2 separate regions of the Homo sapiens genome follow, and region 2 is linked to region 1. The links come from fine-mapping of genetic effects on gene expression. A gene starts in region 1. The other region holds a variant in brackets. All regions are shown on one strand. Distances are from middle to middle.

Region 1 (10,825 bases):
GCATGGTGGCTTACGCCTGTAATCTCAGCACTTTGCGAGGCCAAGGCAGGTGGATTGCTTGAGCTTAGGAGTGTGAGACCAGCCTGGGCAACATAGTGAGATCCTGTCTCTACAAAAAATAAAAAAAAAATCAGCCAGGTATGCCTGTGGTCCCAGCTACTGGGAGGCTGAGGTGGAAAGATTGCTTGAGCCCAGGAGGCAGAGGCTGCAGTGAGCCGAGACCATGCCACTGTACTCCAGCCTGGGTAACAGAGTGAGACCCTGTCTCAAACAAAAAATAAAAAAATTAATCAAAGTTAATCCCTCAGTCACAGTAGCCACATGTCAAGTGCTCAGTAGCTGCATGAGGCTAGTGGCTACCATACTGGACTTTACATCATCACAGAAAGTTCTGGTGAACAGTGCTATTCTAGAGTCTCAGGGTATATGTCATGTGGCTGAAAAATCTCTGGCCTGGGTTTGTGAGTGAGGACCTCAGGGTCAGCCCTTTCCTTCATCTTTGGTCCTTACTATGGGTCAGGCACTGAGCAAGGAAGCGGAGCTACAACCAAGAGAGGACGCTGCTGCCATCGTTATCCAGGGCAATGGGTCTTGATTCCCAAATCGCAGCCTGCTGTGCGCCCTGATCACGTGGAGCTATAAGAAATAGCACTTCCTGGGCCTCACCGCTGGAGGTTTGGATTGGGCATGGGAATCCCTAGGTGATTCTGATGCCGGCACTGGGAAGGCCCAGGTCCAGCATAAGAGACAGACTGGAACACCGCATGGAAGCGCCACACCTGAGAAGGGCGTCCGAGGCCCACAGAGCAGAGGAAGTGACATCTGGGGAAAGCCTTGCAGGCACTTCCATGGAGACTTGAAGAACAATGAGGGCAGTGCTCTGCATGGATATCTCACTTAACAAGACTCTGAGGTACTACTGTTGCCTCCATTTACATTGAGGAAACTGAGGCCCAGAAAGGCTAATCCATTTGCCCAAAGCCTCACAGGCAAGTAAGAGGCAGAGCTAGGGTTCGAACCCAAGCACCCAGACCTCTGAATCTGAGATCTTAACCATTACAATGACTGGGGCACAGGAAAGGTCCCCACCCCCCAAAGACAGCTTGCCACCACTGCCCAGCCTACCTGTAGCCCCAGGGAGACAGGCTCCTCTTGTTGGACATCCACAGCTGCAAGTTGACCTCACACTTTCTCTGGGCCAGCTCTGAGCTGTTCCTCAGCTGGGCCACCATCTCCTCGATGTTCCTCTCATACTCCTCCATGCGGGCATACGGTTTCATCCGTGACACCAGGTCCAGTGGCACCTGGTGAGGGCCAGGGGCCAGGGGCCCAGGCCGCCCTTGCCCCTTCCTCTTGCTTTTGGGGCTCCTGGGCTGGCCCAGCCCCAGGAAGATGGAAATGGTAAGAAGAAACAGCTGGGGAGGAAAGCCACAGGTCAAAGGTGGGAGAGCCAAGTCTCTATCTGGGCCAAGACTTGGGGTCCATGGTCCTTTCCCATTGCTCTTAGGGGTCTCCCAGGCTCAGGTCTGACTCTGCCTACCATCCCCCAGCTCTCCCTCCTCAGATTACCCCCTGTTTCCTCTCTCTTGTGTGTTCCAGCCTCTGGTCTTCTCTCAGTCTTACACTCAGCATGCTCCTTCCTGCCACAGGGACTTTGCACAGCCTCTGCCTGCAGCATTCTGCCTCTTCACCTCCTGGACACCTTCCCACCCCTCGTGTCAGCTTTAGCATCGCTTTCTTAGGGATGCCTCTGGACTTTCTTGGGCTCTCATAACCCACACACCTCTTGCATGACTTCAATCTTAAAGTTTGTGTATACAATTCTTTTATGTGTCTGCCCCCAACTCAGCATGGACTCCGTGGGGGCACGTGTCAGTTTCCACACACTGTCATATCTCCCGTGTCTGCGTGATGCATTCAGTGAACACTCACTGAGTAAATGAATGGCTGTCCCCATCGCTGCCCTTCTGTCATTTATGTCTAAGAAGGAAGACAGTGAACAAGAAGACAAACACCCAAGTCTCCCTAGCGACAAGTCCAGGATGGGCCCATTCAGGGTGTGGCTGGAGAAGAGTGGGGCCTCCTGCTTAGCTGTGCTGGGACAATGGCCTGGGAAACTTTTCTGGGGAAGGGACATGTCAGGTGAGGCATGGCAGGCATGGGCTGAGGGAGTTGAAGTCTTGCAGGTGTGGGAGGGGTGGGTTGGGGGAAGATGAGAGAGGAGGTTTGAACTGGTTAAGAACTTTGCTGTGGCCGGGCGTGGTGGCTCACACCTGTAATGCCAGCACTTTGGGAGGCCGAGGCGGGCAGATCACAAAGTCAGGAGATCGAGACCATCCTGGCTAACACTGTGAAACCCCGTCTCTACTAAAAATACAAAAAAATTAGCCGGGTGTGGTGGCGGGTGCCTGTAGTCCCAGCTACTTGGGAGGCTGAGGCAGGAGAATGGCCTGAACCCGGGAGGCGGAGCTTGCAGTGAGCCGAGATCACACCACTGCACTCCAGCCTGGGCGACAGAGCGAGACTCCTCTCAAAAAAAAGAAAAAAGAACTTTGCTGAATCGAATGGAATGTTGATTAAGAGTGGGTGGGAGGAAGAGGGGATGAGATGAAGCTGGGGAGATGGGCAAGTTATGGGCTAAGGATGTCCTGTCCGCCTGCACTGCCCTTCTCCCCTGAGCCTTCCCTCTTCCAGCCATCCCCCAAGCCCTCCTCACACACACACACCCTCACCCATTGCCATCCACTTCTCCCTCCCAGCACCAGAGTATCAGGAAAGCCTTTGGCTCACAAGGAAGAGGACTCAGGCCCGGCAGAAGCCAGACTCCCCAGGAATCCAGAGAGAAGGGACAGTGCCTGCGTGTGAGGCAGAGCTCCCAGGATGGAGGCACCTCTGACTCCTCTTAAATTGAGATAGGCTCCATATGTTCCCTGTATGCCTCACCTCACAGCCCCACAGCCCCATGGCCCATGCCTGCTTTATCCAGGCTACCCAGCAAGTCTTGACCCTAGGAAACAAGTTTCAGCAGAGCCCCTCTTGGCAGAGGTATTTGCTGGCACAAAATCTGCAACAGAGATTCAAGTGCTAAATTCTTCCTTTTTGGTCCTAGATTCTAGTGCAGAAAAAATGTCTCCCTAACAATAGGCTCTCTCTTTAGAGTTTCTCACAGGGCATTCTTAAACTCTGGCTCTCCACTCGGAGAAACGTAGAATAGAATCAAAGTCCCCCTCCCTCACTCTCCAGATGGGACACTGAGAAACAGAAGGACTTGCCCAAGGTCACACAGCCAGGACCTCAGAAGCCGGGTCTCTTTGGAAAAACCCCGATAACTGAGTTTGCCGGGATCTCCCCAGACGCCTCTGGTCTGAAAAGGCTTCAGTGTGCCCCGGCTGAGCCCCGTTCAGGAGCCTGCACTGCTGGCCATGGCTACAGTGACCAGTCTCTGTTTCTTTCTAGTCCTGGGGGAGAAGACAGAGAAGTTGCCTCTGCAGATTCTAAACCAAACAGAGGCAGCCATTAATAAATAGGAAAGAAAAACTGACATATTTGGGCTCTTAAAAAGGGGTGGGGGTGCGGCAGGGAAGCGCCACGTACCAGGTTGTGAGGCCAGTCCATTCCGCCAAGCTGCAAGGTCAGCCTGCAGCTGCTGCCCGCCTGGAACCCCAGATGCCGCCGAGAGAATGGCAGCAACAGGATGGAGCGAAGCAATTATAGCTCAACTGGGGGCTGCTGGGGGAGTGAGTGGGTGGGCTCGTCATCAGCTGGGAGCCTTGGGCCCCCAGCTGGCTGAGCCTAGCGCAGTGGCAGGCGGTGAGGGGCGTGGGGGCAGGCCAGGAGCCGAGCTGAGGTGCCCAGGGGCTGTTGACCGAGGGACAATGCCCTGTGTGTCTGGTGGGGCTCTGGCCGGTGGCACCTCCGCCTGTGGCCTGCGGCCGGCCGCCCAGCCAGCACCCACAGGGCCAGCTAAGACAATCAGCTTCGTTTGCTTAGGGGATGGCAAGGGGTTGAGGGTGGAGGAGGGATGGGCCGTTGGTTGGTCAGGAGAGCAAATGTTCTCAAATTGTGCTGGCCAGGAGTGGGACACAGGCCCCATCTCCCAGGGAAACAGCCTCAGGCACTCCAGCCTCTGCCGGCCTCAGGTGAGTTCAGCAGCCCTAGGAGACCAAAGCCCCACCCCTCTAGATCACAGTCAAGGAAACTGAGGCTGGAGCCAGAAAGGGACTTGTCACTATTAACAGTGAGTTAGAGGTGTCAGAGCTGCTATTCTCACCCTGTCCCCATCCAGGGCTCTATCCACCACCCCATGTTGTTTTTCTTGGGAGACTTTCCGCACAATTTCAGCCTGCTGTGAACATATTTCTGAAGCTGTACGCCCTCACTCTGGCCAAGTTTCAGATCCATGAGGACTTACGGCTGATTGTCCTGGCCTTCCTGACACAGCACTCTCCCTCCTGGGGTGGTCTCCGCTCTCAGAGACTGTGTGGCTGCATGTGAGCTTTACTGTCAGCCTCAGTTCCCTCCTCCATAAAATGGTGGGTGTATCCAGAAGTAGACGGTGGCCTGGCCCATTCCCTCCTGAAATCTTTCTGAGCCTCAGTTCCCACATCTCTAGAATGGGAAGAATCATGGCACCCTCTTAAAACTGCTATAAGGAATAAAGGAAATCACCTATGTTAAATAGCTGGCAACAGTACCTGGCACATAGTAAGTGCTCAATAAACACTTAGCTATTTATTATAGAGATTATTATAAAATAATTGTATAATTATTATAAACATTAGTTGTTCTAATTAGCATTAGAGGTAGCATGGTTCTCATTTCTCTACTGACTCTCCCTTCAACCCCCTCAGGCCCACCCTCCTGGCTGCTGAGAGAGGTCTAGGCCTCCAAGATTCAGGCCACAAGTTTGTGAGGTCGGATGACCTCAGGGTCCAAAGGTCCTGGAATCACATGCTCAACTGACCACCTCCTCTGGCCAATGTCTCTCACCTCAGGTGAACAGCCCAGCCCAATGTAAGCGGGCACATCCACCCAGGGAGGCAGGAATGGCGGGAGGGAATGTGAGGAGGACAGAGGAGGGGCATTGTGAACAGATACTGAGGACGGCCCTGTCGTGCTGAGGGCCGGTCTTGGCCATTTACAGGAATCGTCCGAGGGGAAGAAGGCAGGGTGAGAGGCGCTCCTGAATGTCACAAGATTAATCTGTCCGGGGCAGGCTTCCACAGCATAACTGAGATGCTGGCTGGGGCTCGAGCATGAGAGATGCCACCATATTTGGTCAAATACTAGACAGGGCTCTATTCTACCGTTGGAAACTCCAGAGGGAGGGGTACTCTGAAAATACCTCCTCAGGCAACAAGGGCCCCGCCCCCACCGCAGGCTGTCCCAGCCCCAGCCCCACTGGCCGGGCGGCCTGGCTGTGTTCTGTGCTGGCTCTCTGCACACACTCTGCTGCTGCTAGCAGTGGGGTCCCACAGACATGCAACTGGGGTGACCCTCCCATATCCACAGAACAGTGGCAAACTGAAAGATGGATGCTGGGGTATGGGGGACCCCTGAAACCAACACATTCTCCTTACCTGCTGGAAATACGCACCCCTCACTTCTGCCTCCCCAAGCCAGGACTGACTTGTCAGCTTCCCCTGCTCCAGCTGCAGTGCTTGCTACTTTAGATTTCAGGGTCCCAGCCCCAGAGATGCTGAAGTAGCAGCGCAAAAATCTGCATCTTAGCACGAGGCCAGTTTGGGAGCTACACGGGTCCTCACCCATCATCTGGCCCCCTCCTCCCACCCATTTTACTACAAGGAGACTTGGATAAGGGAGGGTCCTACCCCAGCTCACACAGTGCGTTTGTGCCAGAGCTGGGAGCAGAACTCCGTCTCCTAAGTCATTCATTGTTCTTCCCTCAGACTTTATACAAACAGCTCTGGGCCAGGCTGGGCCTCCTTGCTGGTCTGGTGGAGACCAAAGAGGCAGGCCAGTCCTTGTGGGGGCCCCAGATCCTTCACAGTGGGGAGGGGAGCTTTGGGGTCCCCTGGCAGGTGCTGTGAGGAGTCAGGCATGGGCCCAGCAACAGTCATTGGGTTTCCCATTCCTGGACCATCTCAGACCAGGAGGGAGACCCCTTCTTCCAGTCTTGGTTTCTAGAAACCCCTGGAGGGTCATCTGTCCTTTTTGATGTCCTGAGTGTGAACCCAGGCAGGCCTGTGGGACCCAGCCCCAGGACTCAGTGCCAGGCCTGAGAGGGAGGTGCAGGAACTGGGCTTCCAGGGCTCCCACCCCACGAGTGAGGCTGGGGTCCTTGGGTCTTAACACGCAGAGGGTGGTCAGCATGCGTGAATGAAGGACTGGGCAGATGAGCTACAGGGGAAGGGGCAGTGGGTGGCCGCGGTCTCGCTCAGAGCCCTCTGCAGCAGGCCCCGCCAGGAGCAGTGCTGCACTCACCAGCAGATGGCGCCACTAGAAAGCCAGCCAACCCTGAAAAATGTACTGACCCTGAGGGAACTTGCACTCTGCCACCTCTTTCTCCAAGAGCGGCCCGGGACTGAGAATGAGGGGATGGGGCGAGTGGGTGGGGCCCTGCGCCTGTGCCTGGCTTCCAGAGTGACCCTATTGTTGATGAGGACCAGAGCCTAGGAGACATCAGAGCCGGCCAGGAATGACACAGGCGGTGTCGGGGTCACCGATTCCAGGTGTCGGGGTCACCGATTCCAGGGGTCGGGTGAGGGCTTCTGTCTGCTGAGTGAGTGATTGCCTTTACTTTGAGCACCTGCTGTGTGCCAGGCCTCAGGCATTTGGCACCTGGACACCTTAATTCACAGAAAATAACAGTAACAATAATAGCTGCTACTTAATATCCACTTACTGACTGCCAGGCCATAAGCTAAATGCTTCATGAAATCCTCCAAATAACACTGGGTGAGGTCCTAGTTTTATTCTGAATTACAGATGGGGAAACTGAGGCTCAGCGTGGTTAACCACTTGCCCAAAGTCACAGAAGATTCACAGCAAGTTTGTCTGACTCCTGCACACACTGCTCCCTGCGGTGGAGTAAGGAGAGGGGCGGCAGCCAGGGGTGGAGGGGGAATGTCCAGTTGGTCAGCTGGTCATTGAGCACGGTCTGTGATGGCCTCAGCCTTGACCCATGGCCTCAAACAACCTGAACCCGGTAGGTTCGGGTGCTCACTAAACCCACGCCCAAGCCCAAGTCATCAAGGGGATCCGAGAGCTCCCAGGGTGCTCGTGGGGCACCCAACAGCATTCCTGGTATGTGAACTAAAATATTGATACATTGAATCAAACTGACTATAATACAGGGAGGCCATGCTGGGACAGAGGAGGAGGCCAGAGCAGAGGGACCTGGAGAAGGAAGTGCAGCCGGGAGGGCAGAGGTCAGCCTCCACAGATGGGCTGGCCTGAGTTTCAGCCCTGCCCCTGCCCCTTCACTGCTGTGTCATCTTGGGAATGTTAATTGACTTCTCTGAGCCTTAGTTTCTTCTGCAAAGTGAAGATAATAATAACTTGGCTCTCAGTGGATTGTTGTGAGGATCAAATGAGATAATGCACGTTAAAGCGCTTAGCACAGTCCCTGGCAAAAGTAAGTACCCCATTAATGGTAGCTGCAACTGTCATTCCTACAGTTAAAATGAGTTTTGAGTTGGGCCTTCAAGAATGCTTCTAGTACGTTCCTGGGTAGGAAGGGCATTACGAAGTGGGGACAAGGCTAGAACCAGCAGAAGAATGCAAAGGTGCCTATTTCCAGCGGGCCCACCCTAGAGCGTTGGCAAGGCCAGGGGGACCTGAAGGATTTGGTCTAAGAACTTGCCCAAGTGGACCCAGTAAGGTCAGGGAAGGCGGGAAGAGGCTAGTCGGCGCCTTTGCTGGCTGCGACCAGGAGGGTGCAGCCCCCTAGGGAGGTCCTGGCTCTCCTGCCATGCTGCCCTCCCCTCCCTCCCTGGTAGGAGTCCTTCTCCCAGGCCCATATTTGCACAAATGCTTGCCTCGCTGCTCACTCCAGAGCCCCAGCCAAGAGGTGCTATTTTAAGATCCCTGGACGGGAACATTGTTGGTGGGAACAGCCCCAGCCAGCAAGCTCCCAGTTCTCAAAAAAGGGAAAGGCCTGGGTGAATGGGCGGCCTCTGGGGTGTGCAGAGGGGCTGCCACGTCGACATGACCCTCTGCCCAGGCCAGGTGCCAGCGTCTCCTCCCCACAGGGGGAAGTCAAAGAAATGTGAGTTGGGGTAGGACTCCAAGAGGTGGTCTTGTTCACTGGAGACTGGGTCGCCTAGGCCTCTCTTCTGCAGAGCATCCAGACTTGAAAACACCAAGTTTGTGTTTCTGGGTTGCAAATTGACTCTACACTGTACCAAGTCTCTTGTTAGCACTCACCACCCACAGGCCATCAGAGGTAGGGGATACCTCATCCAGCCCTTAGCAAAGCGGGAACGCTTTCTAAGTGCCTTTGCTGGGTATCATCTCTCTAGGAATATCATTTCTCTCTGAGGATGCACAGTCCATTTTTTAAAACTCTGGTTGTTGAAAATAATTATAATTATAAAAGCTTTCTTTTTTATTTTGCAGAAGCCCTCCTCCTGTGGGGAAAGCACGGCAGACTTCAGGCAATGGTGGTTGGACATTTGCCCTGCCCCTTATTATATGGTCATGTCCACCCCCCTCACTTCAGTGGGCCTCCGTTTCCTCACGGGGTTGTTAAAATGCATTAATCATTAAAATTATTGTTTGCCTGGCACATAATGGTACTTAATATTTGGCAAGTTCGGGCTGATATTTTGTAATTTGGTTTGGTTTTATATGTGCCTGATTTTGATGTATAGTGTGTTTGTGGGTGTATGTGCTATTTTTGCTTTTTGATTATGAAGAGCCAGTATAGATTAATATTTAAAGCACAGACGATGAACCAGAGTGCTCTGAACCTCATCCCTGCTATGTAGCAGCTAAGTCACCTTGGGCAAGTGACCTAACCTCCCTGAGCCTATGTCCTTGAAAGAGAGGTGGGGGGTTAACAAGATTATATGTGGCAAGTGCCTGGCACAGGGAATGGCCCTGCTATTATTTTGTTGTATGCATTGTCCTTAGTTCTTCCCAATCAGGTGGCACAGAGCAATTCTAGTCAGCTCAATTCTAGCACTTTCTAACTGCCAGAGAGTCCCAGAAATAAAATGGACTGCCCTGGAAAAGAGTGATCTCTCTATCAGCAGAGAGCAGAACACTAGCCAGGAGATTCTAGAAGAGGAAGGAGTGGCCCAGGTGTGTGTTGTGGGGTGGAGGGGTTGTTGAGCTTTTTTTTTTTTTTTTTGAGATGGAGTCTCGCTCTGTAGCCCAGGCTGGAGTGCAGTGGCATGATCTCAGCTCACTGCAGCCTCCGCCTCCCAGGTCCCTGTTAAGCAATTCTCCTGCCTTAACCTCCCAAGTAGCTAGGATTACAGGCATGCGCCACCATGCCCAGCTAATTTTTGTATTTTTATTAGAAACAGGGTTTCACCATGTTGGACAGGCTGGTCTTAAATTCCTGACCTAGAGTTCGACACCAGCCTGACCAACATGGAGAAACTCCGTCTCTACTAAAAATACAAAATTAGCCGGACGTGGTGGCGCATGCCTGTAATCCCAGCTACTCAGGAGGCTGAGGCAGGAGAATCGCTTGAACCTGGGAGGCAGAGGTTGCAGTGAGCCAAGATCGTGCCATTGCACTCTAGCCTGGGCAACAAGAATGAAACTCCATCTCAGAAAAAACAAAAAAAAATCCTGACCTCATGATCCGCCTCAGCCTCCCAAAGTGCTGGCATTACAGGCGTGAGCCACCGTACGCGGCCAGTTTTTGAGCTTTTAAAGTTCCCTTCTAGCCTTGAGAGGTCCAGATCTGATGTCCAAGGCCTCAGGCCCCCATGTGGGGCTGTCAGGCCTGCTGTAACTCACCCAGACCTGGGACAGGAAGGAGTGCGAGAGAGCCTGTGGGGGACGTGGAATAAACAGCCTGTCTCCAGGGCAGACAGAGGCGCCAGGCCCCCTGCCCACTGGAGTGTCCTCCCCTCAGTCCCGGGGGATGTTTATCCTCTGCTCAGAGTTTACAGGACGTCTGGATTCACAAGATCTGGAATTCTGACTTTTCCCCCAAAGCTGTCAGCGTCTCCTCTGGCTGGGTGGGTCTGGGTCTGTTTTGGGTGGAAGGCCCCAACCCTGCCCTCAGCAGAAGCAGGAAACGGGTACAGAACAAAAAAAGTCCTCTTCAGCCCCCCAGAGCCGCTCCTGGCAGAGGAAGAGGCCACATCTGTGGGGACGTGAGAAGAAAACGTCAACATCTCCCAGCAGCTGCGTAGGGAGAGGAGTCCTGGGGGCTCATGGGTGGCAGGGGCTCATGGGTGGGGCAGAAAGGACTTCTTTTGCAGGTTGGGTTCAAAGGCCTGCACCCCGAACATTAAGCTACAAACCGATGGTACTTATCAAAGTCTGCCTTGCATATTGGCCTCTGTTGTTGGGTCAGAGAGTGCTGTTTTTATTGTGGTTGTTTTGGTGTATTGTGTGAGTGCAAATTTGTGGGTGGTGTCTTGTATGTGTGTGTTTTGTTATTGTTTTAAGAGCCATCAGGTAGGAGCTGTTCACAGACAGCAAGCATGTCTTACTCACAGATGCGGCTCTCAGCACCTGGCTCAGGGAGCTTGGGGCTGGCTTGCGATTAGGGCAGGATTAGCAGAGGAACGTCCTGAGAGCTGTGCACAACACAACACTTAGAGCACAGGCAGCAACTCTGACACACATCACATCACCCTTGATGGCCGTAGCCAAGGCCTCTATCCTCATCCTCCTG
Region 2 (10,825 bases), 24 kb after region 1:
CTGCAAAATGACCAGGGTTGGGTGGCAGACAGAGGATGTTGGATTTAGGTCAGGGGTTTGGTGGATTGGTGCTGCATCCATTCCAACCTTCATTACTGCAGAGCCTTGTAAGCTAAAAACTACATTTCCCAGACTTCCAGTGGTTCTGGAGGGAGGTTACCTTCCTGCTTCTTCACAGTAGCTACTGGCAAGCACCCCTATATGGGTTTGTCCACATCAGTGGTCCCTTACACATGTTTAGGGTTGAACTATGTCCCCCCTCCCCAAATTTCTATGTTTAATTCCCAGTCCTCAACACCTCAGAATTTGACCTTATTTGGAAACAGGGTTGCCACAGATGTAATTAGTTAATATGAGGTCAGACTGGATTAGGGTGGGCCCCTAATCCAATATGACTTATAAAAAGAGTACCTTTGGAAACAGCACACACAGGGAAAACACCATGAGAAGATGAAAGCAGATATCAGGGCGATACATCTACAAGCCAAGAAAGGCCAAAGATTGCCAGCAAGCCGCTAGAATCTAGGAGGCCTGGAACAGATTCTCTCTCACAGCCTTAGAAGGAGCCAGTTCTGCTGACACTTATCTCGGACTTCTAGCCCCCAGAGCTGTGAGATAAATTCCCATCATTTAAGCCACCCTGTCTGGATGGAGTGTTTGGTTACAGCAGCCCTGCCTGACTGACACAACCGGTCGCTGGCTTTGTGGGTGTGGCAGAGGCAGGAGTGACCTCCTAACCCTGGACACAGCTGCAGCAGTGTATTCTTCACATGACAGTGGAGCTCCCCCTCCAGAGTCCACTGTAGTCAGAGTTATCCAGCTAAACAGAGCCAACGGGATATATAGAGACACAGAAGAGGAGAGTTATCTCGGAAATTGGCTTACATGATTATAAAGGCCAGCAAGTCCCACGTTTTGCCACCTGCAAGCTGGAGGACCAGGAAAGCTGCTGGTATGACTTAGTCCAGGTTCAAAGGGCTGGAGCCAGGGGTGCCACTGGTGTAAGTCCCAGAGTCCCAAGGAGCAAGAACCAGGAGCTCTGATGTCTGAAGCCAGAAGAAGACACATGTTCCAGCTCAAGAAGAGAGAATTCACCCCTCCTCCACCCTTTTGTTCTAGTCAGGCTCTCGATGGACTAGATGCTGCCCCTCTGCATTGGCAAAAAGCGATCTGCATTGAAAAGCCAATCTCTTCCAGAAACACACCAACAGACACATCCAGGAGCAATGCTTTACCAGCTATCTGGGCATCCCATAGCCCAATCAAATTGATACATAAAATTAACCATCACATCACTTCTGATGGCAGTAGAGGTAGCATCTGCCTTGACAGGACAATTTTGTGGTTTTCAAAGTCATTCCCAAGGGTCCTTTCTAGGGCCCACTTCTCTAATTTTCCTAATTGCATAAGCTTCCGATTCCCTGTAGTAAATCCCTTTCTGCTCAAATGAGCAGGAATAATTGCTTTCCTGCACATGGACCCTGACTGGTAAGACTTGATTAGACAATGGACACTGAATTAAATTTTCAATTTTTCACAGTTGCCATACATAAATTCTAAAACAAAGTAAGCTGTCAAGGTCTCGTGGTATGCCTTTTTAAAAGTGATAATTGGACTGGGCATGGTGGCTTATGCCTGTAATCCCAGCACTTTGGGAGGCTGAGGCGGGTGGATCACCTGAGGTCAGGAGTTCAAGACCAGCCTGGCCAACATGGTGAAACCCCATCTCTACTAACAGTACAAAACTAGCCGGGTGTGGCAGCACATCTCTACTAACAGTACAAAATTAGCCAGGTGTGGTAGCATATGCCTGTAATTCCAGCTACTTAGGGGGCTGAGGGAGGCTGAGGGAGGAGAATCACTTGAACCCAGGAGGCGGAAGTTACAGTGAGCCAAGATTGCACCACTGCACTCCAGCCTGGGTGACAGAGGAAGAAACCCTCTCAAATAAATAAATAAATGTGATAATTGCCTAAAAACAAGAAATGCTCAATGAAAATCAAGACAAAAATCAAATACAGAAAACTATAGTGAAGTAAGCCCAAATCACCCCAAATTCCCTCCACCCAGAGATAACTTCTCTTCTTATTTTGTTGAACGTTCTTTCACACATCGAACGGTGCATTTTACATGCACGGTCACATGTGTTACCCTGCACTGTTCAGGGTGCAATTAGTGTGGCCCGGTTTTCCTTGAAACTTCAAGTGTTCAAGCCCCATGTGCTGGTGATAGCAGGAAGTCCAGCATGCAGCCCAGCTGCTCTCTACAGGGTTTTCACTGCCTCCCTCTTACACACAGAGGGTTCCCGTACAGGCGTCTTGGAAGGAGGTGTCCAGACCCATGTGGTCTTGTATCAGTGCACTGACCATGGTGGAAGGACATGAATAACCGAGCAGGAGCTAATCTTGGTGAGTAATATTCGAGTTGTCAGTCAGGTTCACTACTCCCAAAGCAGCCACGGTAGTGGAAGACGGTGCTCCCCCTAGACCAGAGAAGGGCTCCAAGCCAACCACCCAGGGCCCTTCAATGCAAGCCTTTCCCACAAAGATTTGGGAGGACTGGGCTACACCATTGTTCCCCTTCCCATAACCATTCTTCCCTGGCGATCAACATAAAAGGTGTGTTACATCCTTCTCTCAGGACAATGAGTTAATTCACCCTCCCCTGCCATTCCCAAAGATACTACCTTTGGGCACTCCACAGTGACTTCCTGTCCTGGCCTATCTGTGAAGTAGATTAGGGAAGAGACAACACACAAATTCAACCTCCAGCAGGGCGCCTTGCTACTCTCACACTTACCCTCTCCTGACACACACATACGTACACATCATTTGACTTAAAAGGGATTATACAATTTATCTTCTTTAATACCATGCTTTTAAAAAAAAAAAAAAAAAAAGAACAAAAACTCGTGCCGGGCACGGTGGCTCATGCCTGTAATCTCAGCACTTTGAGAGGCCGAGGCGGGCGGATCACAAGGTCAGGAGATCAAGACCATCCTGGCTAACACGGTGAAACCCCATCTCTATTAAAAATACAAAAAATTAGCCAGGCGTGGTGGCACATACCTGTAGTCCCAGCTACTTGGGAGGCTGAGGTGGGAGAATCGCTTGAACCCGGGAGGCAGAGGTTGCAGTGAGCCGGGATCGCACCATTGCACTCCAGCCTGGGTTACACAGTGAGACTCCATCTCAAAAAAAAAAAAAAAAAAAAAAACTCAATAGCAAGTTGTAGACAGTTTTTTGTTTGTTTTGTTCTGTTTTGTTTTGTTTTGTTTTGTTTTGTTTTGTTTTGAGACAAGGTCTCATTCTATAGCCCAGACTGGAATGCAGTGATGCAATCTCGGCTTACTGTAGCCTCTGCCTCCCAGGCTCAAGTGATCCTCCCACTTCAGCCTCCCAAGGAGCTGGGATTACAGGCACAGTCCACCATGCCCAGCTAATTTTTTGTATTTTTTATAGAGACGGGGTTTCACCGTGTTGCCCAGGATGGTCTCAAACTCCTGGGCTCAAGAGATCCTCCTGCCTCAGCCTCCCAAAGTGCTGGGATTACAGGTGTGAGCCACCACGCCTAGCCATGTGGGCAGCTTTCCATGGTATGATGCTTTTGAGAAAATGGTTGGATTGCAAGGCAAATAATTATAGGCATTTCATCACTAATTGTCCATATTCCCACCTCCCACATACCAACTCTACCAACAAAAAAAAAGTTTTATGTTCATTGAAGAGAACATATGGGGCTTGATTTTTAACTCAGGGGTTATGGGCCTTTTCAATATAAAATTGTTTCCCAACTGGCCACCTCTGAGCTGAGCCTCCTGGGTAGAATTAGTGTGAATTCAGGGTTGGAGATTAGGGACAGGTTGGGAGGTGAGAACAGAAAGGGTGAAGTGAAGCCCATACGATCTCAGGGCTGGGAAGGGACTTGCCAAGTTGTCCAGCCTCTGCTTGCATTCCCTTAATAACAGGGAACTCACCACTTTACCAAGACAGCTTGTTAGCCCACTTCATCCTTGGTTAGTTCCACTGGCTTAAAAAGTATTTCCCATGTGGATCTAGATTCCATCTTCCTAAAGGTTCCAACTGTACCAATTCAAGGTCTTCCTTGGTCACTCTGTAGAGAAGTAGAGCCGGCTCTCCCAGGGCCCATGAGTCCTCTATTCTCCTGGACAGGGTCCCCCTCCCCCTGACTAAATACACCATCTGAAAACACAGGACTCAACGATGCAAACTCACTCTCATACTCAGCTCCTAACAGGAACCTCCCTTCACCTCCCAAGAAGCCTTACTCACACATACCAAGCCGCAGTCTGTCGAC[C/A]TGTTTTCTCTAGGAATGGAGGGATTTCAAGGCTGCCTCTCCCAGTCTGGAAAGAAAAGCCACTTCACAGAATGAGTTGTTCATAATGTAAAGTGTTCATAACTCCCAAGAGACAGTATGGGCAGGAAATAGAAACAGCTTCCAAATATTTGAGACAGATTTATGGACACTGAGTCACAAATGGCTGCCATATACTTCGCCTTTTGAGCTAGTCTGGTGGCAGAACACCTCTCTCCTGATATTCAAGGACCTGTCTCCAGGTCGCTTCAGTTCCTTGTCTTGCCTCTCGCAATGGGCTTTCTGCTGACCAAGCCCATTGACTCATGGGCGTAGCCGACTAAAGCACTCGGCCAGGTGCAGAGTTTTTGGGCATTTCAATGGTGGGGGTCTCCCCACAGCTTGCACTGCTAGTTTTTCTGTTTGTTCTTGATGACGAACTCTCTACTGTTTATACAGTAGCAGAACTCACAGAAGCATAACTTACGTTTCACAGCCTCCAGAGTGGACTTTACATAAACACGATGTTTCTGTTAGGCCGGCTTTATCTTCCCTCTAGAGTCTGTCAGTGGTGCTTTGGAGTATTCGACTGGGCCACTGTGCAGGGTTGGGGAGTGGTGTCACAAGCCTTCCCTAACCCACCATCTCTGACCTGCACCCCAGGGCATGCACATGAACGGAATTCATCTTCTTGGTTTGGAAAAGAAGGGGGTGACATTAGTGGCGAAACCTCCGTGTAGAGCTCTCGCACCGCAACTCTGAGTCATAGCTTACATCGATCAAGCACTCACTCTGAAGCAGGCTCGGGGCTAAACCTTCACAACCATTGACTCTGTGCTACAGAGGAGACAGTGATCTTCACAGAAGTTAGTTCCCAGAGGGCTTTCCCCAGCCCCACCATTGGGAGCAGAGGGGCAGGGCTGAGCCCAGTCTCACTCGAGTCCTGCTCACACCTTCCTCCAGGACTGCACGGGCCACCTCGCCCAGCCCTCATGGCAATGCTGAAGGCAGGTGTGATTCTCGCCATTTTACCCAAGGGGAAAGGGAGGCACCGGGGGAAAGGGAGGCTGGGAGCGGCAGACCTCACAGCTAGGAAGTGGCCAAGGCAGGAAGAAGCCCACCGGCCTTTCAACACCAACAGAATTCTTTCCTCAGAAGGAATGAGGGAGGGTGGAGGGGTAAGGACATGGCATTTTTAATCCTCCTGTTGGACTGGGAGGCTCTCAAGGTCAGGGACAGTGTCTGATTCAGCACCCCACCCCCTCGGGCCCTCAACTGGCCCCACTCAGGATGTCACAAGGCCCCGTGTGCTGCTGGAGGGGGTCCCAGGGTCGGTGACAGGCAGACCACAGCCTCTGGCCTGGAAGGAGGAGAGAGGGATTGGCAGGCCCATCCAGGCTGGGGGTCTGAGGAACTGTGAATGAGGCCGTGAACAGAGACCGCTGGGGTCCAGCAGGCCTGGCTGCAGAAGGGAAGCTCTGCGCAGTGGAAGGCAGGACCCGGTGGCAGCCCTGGGAGCAGGCCCCGCTGGCCCCTGGGAGAAGACCTCCATGGGCCTCAGCACGACACTCCTAGGCTGGCAGCCGAGGCCTGGTTCACGTGATCCCTTGATTTGTGTTTTCTGACCTTTCTTCACAGACACTCTAGGAAGCCTGGGGACACAGAGCCTGCCAGGGGAAGTCACACTCTCATGAAAGAGCTAGCCAGCAAGAAACTAGAACCGTGGACATGTAAGATAGGCACATGCGTGGCGAGTCCGAAGCGGGAAGCAAGCAGAGGGTGTGACAGAATACTGAGGGGGCCAGGGAATGGCTCTTCCAGAGGAGACTTCTGAGTGGGAGACAGGAGCAGGGGAAGGAGCAGCATGAGCTCTGGGAAGAAGGCATTTTTGGCAGCGAGCAATGCAAGTGCAAAAGCCCTGAGGCATGAAAAACACTAAAGAATCTGTAGGAGGCCAAGGTGGCCAAGCAAAAGGAGAAAGAGGGACTCCGGCAAGAGATGGGCATTTCTCAGGACTGCGGTGGCAGGGAAAAGAGAGCCCCCTGAAGGACATTCCACATTCAAACCCCTGCCCTGTGGTGACCCTGCCAGGTGGCTGGGTCAGGATCTTCCCTGTCAGGCCCAGGCCTCGTTTGCATGATGATGGGAGTAGCTTCCCACGGTCTGGGCTCTCCTTCCCCATGTTCTCCTGTTCCCCCAATTCCCATCACCCAGATTCCAGGAGCCAGGACTGGTGTCTCCCCTACTGGAGGTTCCCAGAAAGTCTCAGAACTCCCACTGCAGTCCTGGGACACAGGGGCTGGGGGAGGAAGGAAATTCTCACACAGCTTTCTCCCAGGGAGTTTGCTCTTGTTCCCAGGCTGACAACTGGCAACCCTCAGAACTCTGTTCCCCACCCCCTTCCTCCTCCTCCTCCTCCTCCTCCTCCTCCTCCTCCTCCTCCTCTCCCTGCCTCCCTCTCTCCCCTGCCCCCCTTCTCAGGCTTAATGACTTCCACATGGGCCTCTGGTGGCTGGAGCCAAGGCTCCCAGCATTGTCTGAAATCTCCAAATTTAGAAGAAATATGAAAATTGTCAACCACTCCTTCCTTAGGGGGTAAAAGCAACATTCAGCACCGGGGGCAGGTCAAGGCAAGGTAGTCACGTGGGGGGTGCCTGGGCCAATGGGGGGCCCTGGGAGGGCTCAGCACCCGCCTCGCCCCAATACGGGGCTTGCCTCTTCAGCTCATATAAGGTAAAAGGCAGAGTGGCCTCTGTGGCCAGGGAGCCGCAGGCAAGGGACTAAGGGGAGGGGGGCTCAGTGCCAGCTGCTTAAAAATGCCCCTGTGGCAGCGAGGGGCACCAGAGGCTGGGTCTAATTAGTTGAGAAGCAGTGACACCCCCAACCACTCCCCAAACAGGCTGGCTCCCGTCTCCAGGCCCCAAGGAGCCACACCTGGACCAGACCCCAGGAAAGGTAAGCACCAACGGCAGACCTGGGATCCGTGGGTGGGGGCCTCTGGGAATTTCCCTAGGGGGATGCTGCATCTGGGGGTCTTGCTGTCTTGCTAACTGGCTCTGTCCCTTTCTGGACACAGATTCTCTGGGTCTCAGTTTCCCCATCTGTACAGGGGCTGGAGTCAATGATCTCTAAGCATCCATCCAGCTGATCGGCTCTAGTTCTATGGTCCTGTTGGCTTCTAGGATTCCTTGTTGTTGTAGTCAATTGGGGGAAGAAGGTGCAGAGGGAGTGCACAGAGTTAACATCCTATCAGCCCAAGCTTCACCTCGGCACCCGAGTCTCAGGCAGTCTCCCTGGCTTCTACATAGGCAGTGCTTCTTCCTCATTGTGTGGGGCTTTGATTTTGTAATTCCAAGAGCCTGGGGCTCCTGGCAAGGAAAATGGTTTTCAAATAATGGTTTCGAGAAACAAAGCTGGGGAAGAGGCAATGTAAGCTCAGGCTCTGGCAGGCAGGCAGAGATCCTGGGAAGGCTGGGTGCTGACTGCACATGGAGCAATGGGAAGGGATGCTGGTGAGAGGAGACGGGGGCACTTAAGCTCCGGCCCCAGCTCTGCTCTCAGTGCCCGGCTCTGTGGTCTTGGGCTGGCCCCCTCCCTTCTCTGGGCCATAGTTTTCCCATCTGTATAGCAAGGCCATTGGACAAAATGGTCCCTCTGCAGATGTGGCTTCTGAGTTGTTTGTGCCTGAGGGACAGCCAGTGTTGGGAAGTTCCCCCAGGAGGTCCCTGAGCCGAGTCTGAACTTTGACCACAAGCTTGGAGTCCAAGCAGATGAAGTCCTGTGGGAGCTTTTGGAGGTTGAGCCTGAGTGAGGGAGAGTAGCTGAAGGTTCTGTGACTGAAGGCTTGGCCAGAGGGGTGCCCCGAGCCCTCCAGATGAACTTGGCTGCAACCAGCCTCTGGTGGGGAAAGGACTGATCTCTGGATTCAACCACACAGGAATGTGGGACATGGAAGTAGGTAAGGGATGGAAAAGATGGCAGAGGGCTTCGCGGGATGAAGCAGTGGGGCCAGGGGACTTAGAGGAATGCAGGAGGCTTGTGATGGGAGGCAGGGCTGGGTAGAGGCAGGGGCTTAGGATTGGAACTTGAAGATGTACAGACAGCATGGAGTCGGGCTCCTCTGAAAACACTCTGGCCACATCCGGAGCCCAGAACAGAACAGTCCTCTAGCACCGGCCTCTGTCTTGTACCCTCCACCTTCCCGCTTCTTGTCACACAAGACCCAAGGCCATCATGGTTCAGAAGGAGGCTCTGAATTCAACTGCCTGGGTCCAATTCTGGCTTGTTTACTTACTGGACAAGTGACCCTGGGCAAGTTGCTTGCTGTTTGAGCCTCAGCTTCCTCCTCTGTAAAATGGGTACAATTCTGAGCTTGCATGGTTGTCATGAGGAGTGAGGGATGTAGGCACATAGAGCAGGATGAATGGGGCTGATGTTACATCGCAGTCAGAGCCCACACCTCCTGCGGGCAAGATACCCTGAGCTATGTTGAGGGAGAAGTGGGAATGAAACCCGGCCAGGGAATGCCCAGAGTTGCTGAAGAGCTCTGGAACAGGCTCTGGAAAGAGGCAGGAGGAATCAAAAGTCAGAGGCTGTGGGACACAGGAAAGTGATCAGCTTGAGATGCCTGAAGGACTGGGGGGGATCTCCTTTCCTGCCTTTCTAGGGCATTGTGTGGGCAATGTATCTGAACCACTGTGCACTCACCCACTGACGGGGGACCCCAAGTGAGGCCTAGGAATCTGCATTACAAGCACCCCATGAATTCCCATGCATGTGGAAGTTTGCGAAATGCCAGGCTGTAGGGCGGCCTAGGACTCTCACAAACTGCCGAGGCAACGGAATCCACAGAGAGAAAGCACTGCTTTAGGTTATTTAGCGAGCTGATGGCAGAGGTGGAACAGAACCTGCCTCTCTGCCCAGCCAGGGATTCCATAAGGTGGTGCAAATCAGGAGAAATAGATGACACTATTTGTGGAGTTCTTATGAGGTCCAGGCACTACCTCAGATCTTCACATGAACTAATTCATTTAATCCTCACAAGAGCCAGTGAGGAAGGGGCAATTATTATCCCCACTCCACAGATGAGGTACCTGAGGCAAAGAGAGTTTAGGTGGCTTGCCTGAGGTCACACAGCTCATGAGTTGTTAAGTTGTGTGTGCCAGCTGCCCCTGGGGCTGCTAACTCCCCCAGGAGTCTCCCACCTCCTGCCCTGCCTCTTAGCTACCTCAAAACTTCCTGGAGACCCTCCAACAGACCTCATGGAAGGGGGCAGAATATGTATGGGAGACTTCTGGGAGTCAGACACTGTGCTGAACAGCTTGCATTATCATTTAATCCTCCCAGGATTCCTGTGAGGCAGGAATCAGCATCATTCCATCACCCTCACTTTCTAGAGAAGGAAACCACTGCAGATTACCCAATGTCACGCAATTAAAAAGTGGTGAAGGGGATTTGAACCTAGTCTATGCATCTGCAGAACGCACACTCTTGGGCTGCCCACCCCGACACCTCTGAGGGCAGTGATGAAGAATCCCACCTCACAGAGGAGACGGAGGCCAGGAGTGAGGCCCTGCCGGAGCCTGAGCCCAAGCCTTCTAGCTCTGAGGCCACTGCTCTCCCTTCAACCCTGTTGCTGCCCCGCAACAGAAAGTTTGTCATTGGTCCCTCACAGCCACACCACAGCCCTTTGGGCAAAATCAGCCCCTTCCCAGCCTGGCCAGTTCTGGGGGAAAATGACACCTGACACCTGACACCTATCCATTTTTTTTTTTTTTTTTGAAATGAGGTCTCCCTCTGTCAACCAGGCTGGAGTGCAGTGACTCTTCTCAATTGACTGCAACCTCTGCTTCCCAGGCTCAAGTGATCCTTCCACCTCAGCCTCCCAAGTAGCTGGGATTACAGATGTGTGCCACATCTGGCTAATTTTTTGTGTTTTTTTGTAGAGACAGGGTTTCGCCATGTTATCCAGGCTGGCCTCAAACTCCTGGGCTCAAGTGATCCCCCAGCCTCAGCCTCCCAAAGTGCTAGGATTACAGGCATGGGCCACTGCACTCAGCCAACACCTATCCTTGAGGAATAGAAAGATCCAGGCTCCACACCACACACCATCACTGACTCAAGTGGCTGTTCTGATTCCCAGCTGAGCCTGAGGGGTTCGGGGAGGTAATCTCTGAGGTCCTCACTGCTGGGCCGTGCCTGGGCATGGCCTCTTCCTGCAATTTTCCAACTAAACTCTCCGGGGGGGCTCAGCGCCATGGGGTGGTTCGAAGAACCATGATGAAGGCTGGTTCGAATTGTGATGACCATTTTTGTCCACATCTCCTAGGACCCATAAGCCAGAGTTTCTCTGGAGCTTATAGCTAGAAGGGGTTCTGGGTCCTGGAGTGCAGGCCTGTCAACTTTACAGGAGAGCACTAGATTGCTTTCTGAAGTGGCTGAACCAGGTTATGCTTCCATCAGCTGTGTATGAGCATCCCCATCTTCTTGACCACACTTGAAGCCATCAGTT

Which allele goes with the higher level. Alleles are on the strand shown, and positions count from the first base shown. SD is a standard deviation of normalised expression in the study named.
For the expression in fibroblasts of the gene that starts at base 3,682 in region 1, A is the high allele of the variant in region 2 and C is the other (small effect, 0.37 SD a copy in GTEx).

What was found.
Region 2: its variant is fine-mapped to the expression of IL17B in fibroblasts (GTEx, PIP above 0.99).

The regions. Positions count from the first base shown.
Region 1 is chr5:149,375,611-149,386,435 of GRCh38, forward strand. It overlaps IL17B (interleukin 17B), which reads right to left and starts at 3,682. Exons shown (of 3, transcript NM_014443.3): 1 at 3,595-3,682; 2 at 1,126-1,415. The coding sequence starts at 3,615. It overlaps LOC101927046 (a long non-coding RNA gene), which reads left to right and starts at 6,626. Exons shown (of 2, transcript XR_245875.4): 1 at 6,626-6,742; 2 at 8,581-8,749. RefSeq lists enhancers at 3,930-4,464, 4,817-5,529, 6,956-7,667, 9,553-10,053.
Region 2 is chr5:149,399,810-149,410,634 of GRCh38, forward strand. CARMN (cardiac mesoderm enhancer-associated non-coding RNA) reads left to right here and starts at 7,036. Exons shown (of 5, transcript NR_105060.1): 1 at 7,036-7,269. It also overlaps a transcript of IL17B not described here. RefSeq lists enhancers at 1-127, 5,084-5,674, 7,525-8,525, 10,642-10,825. The variant C/A (reference allele first, on the strand shown) is at 4,318.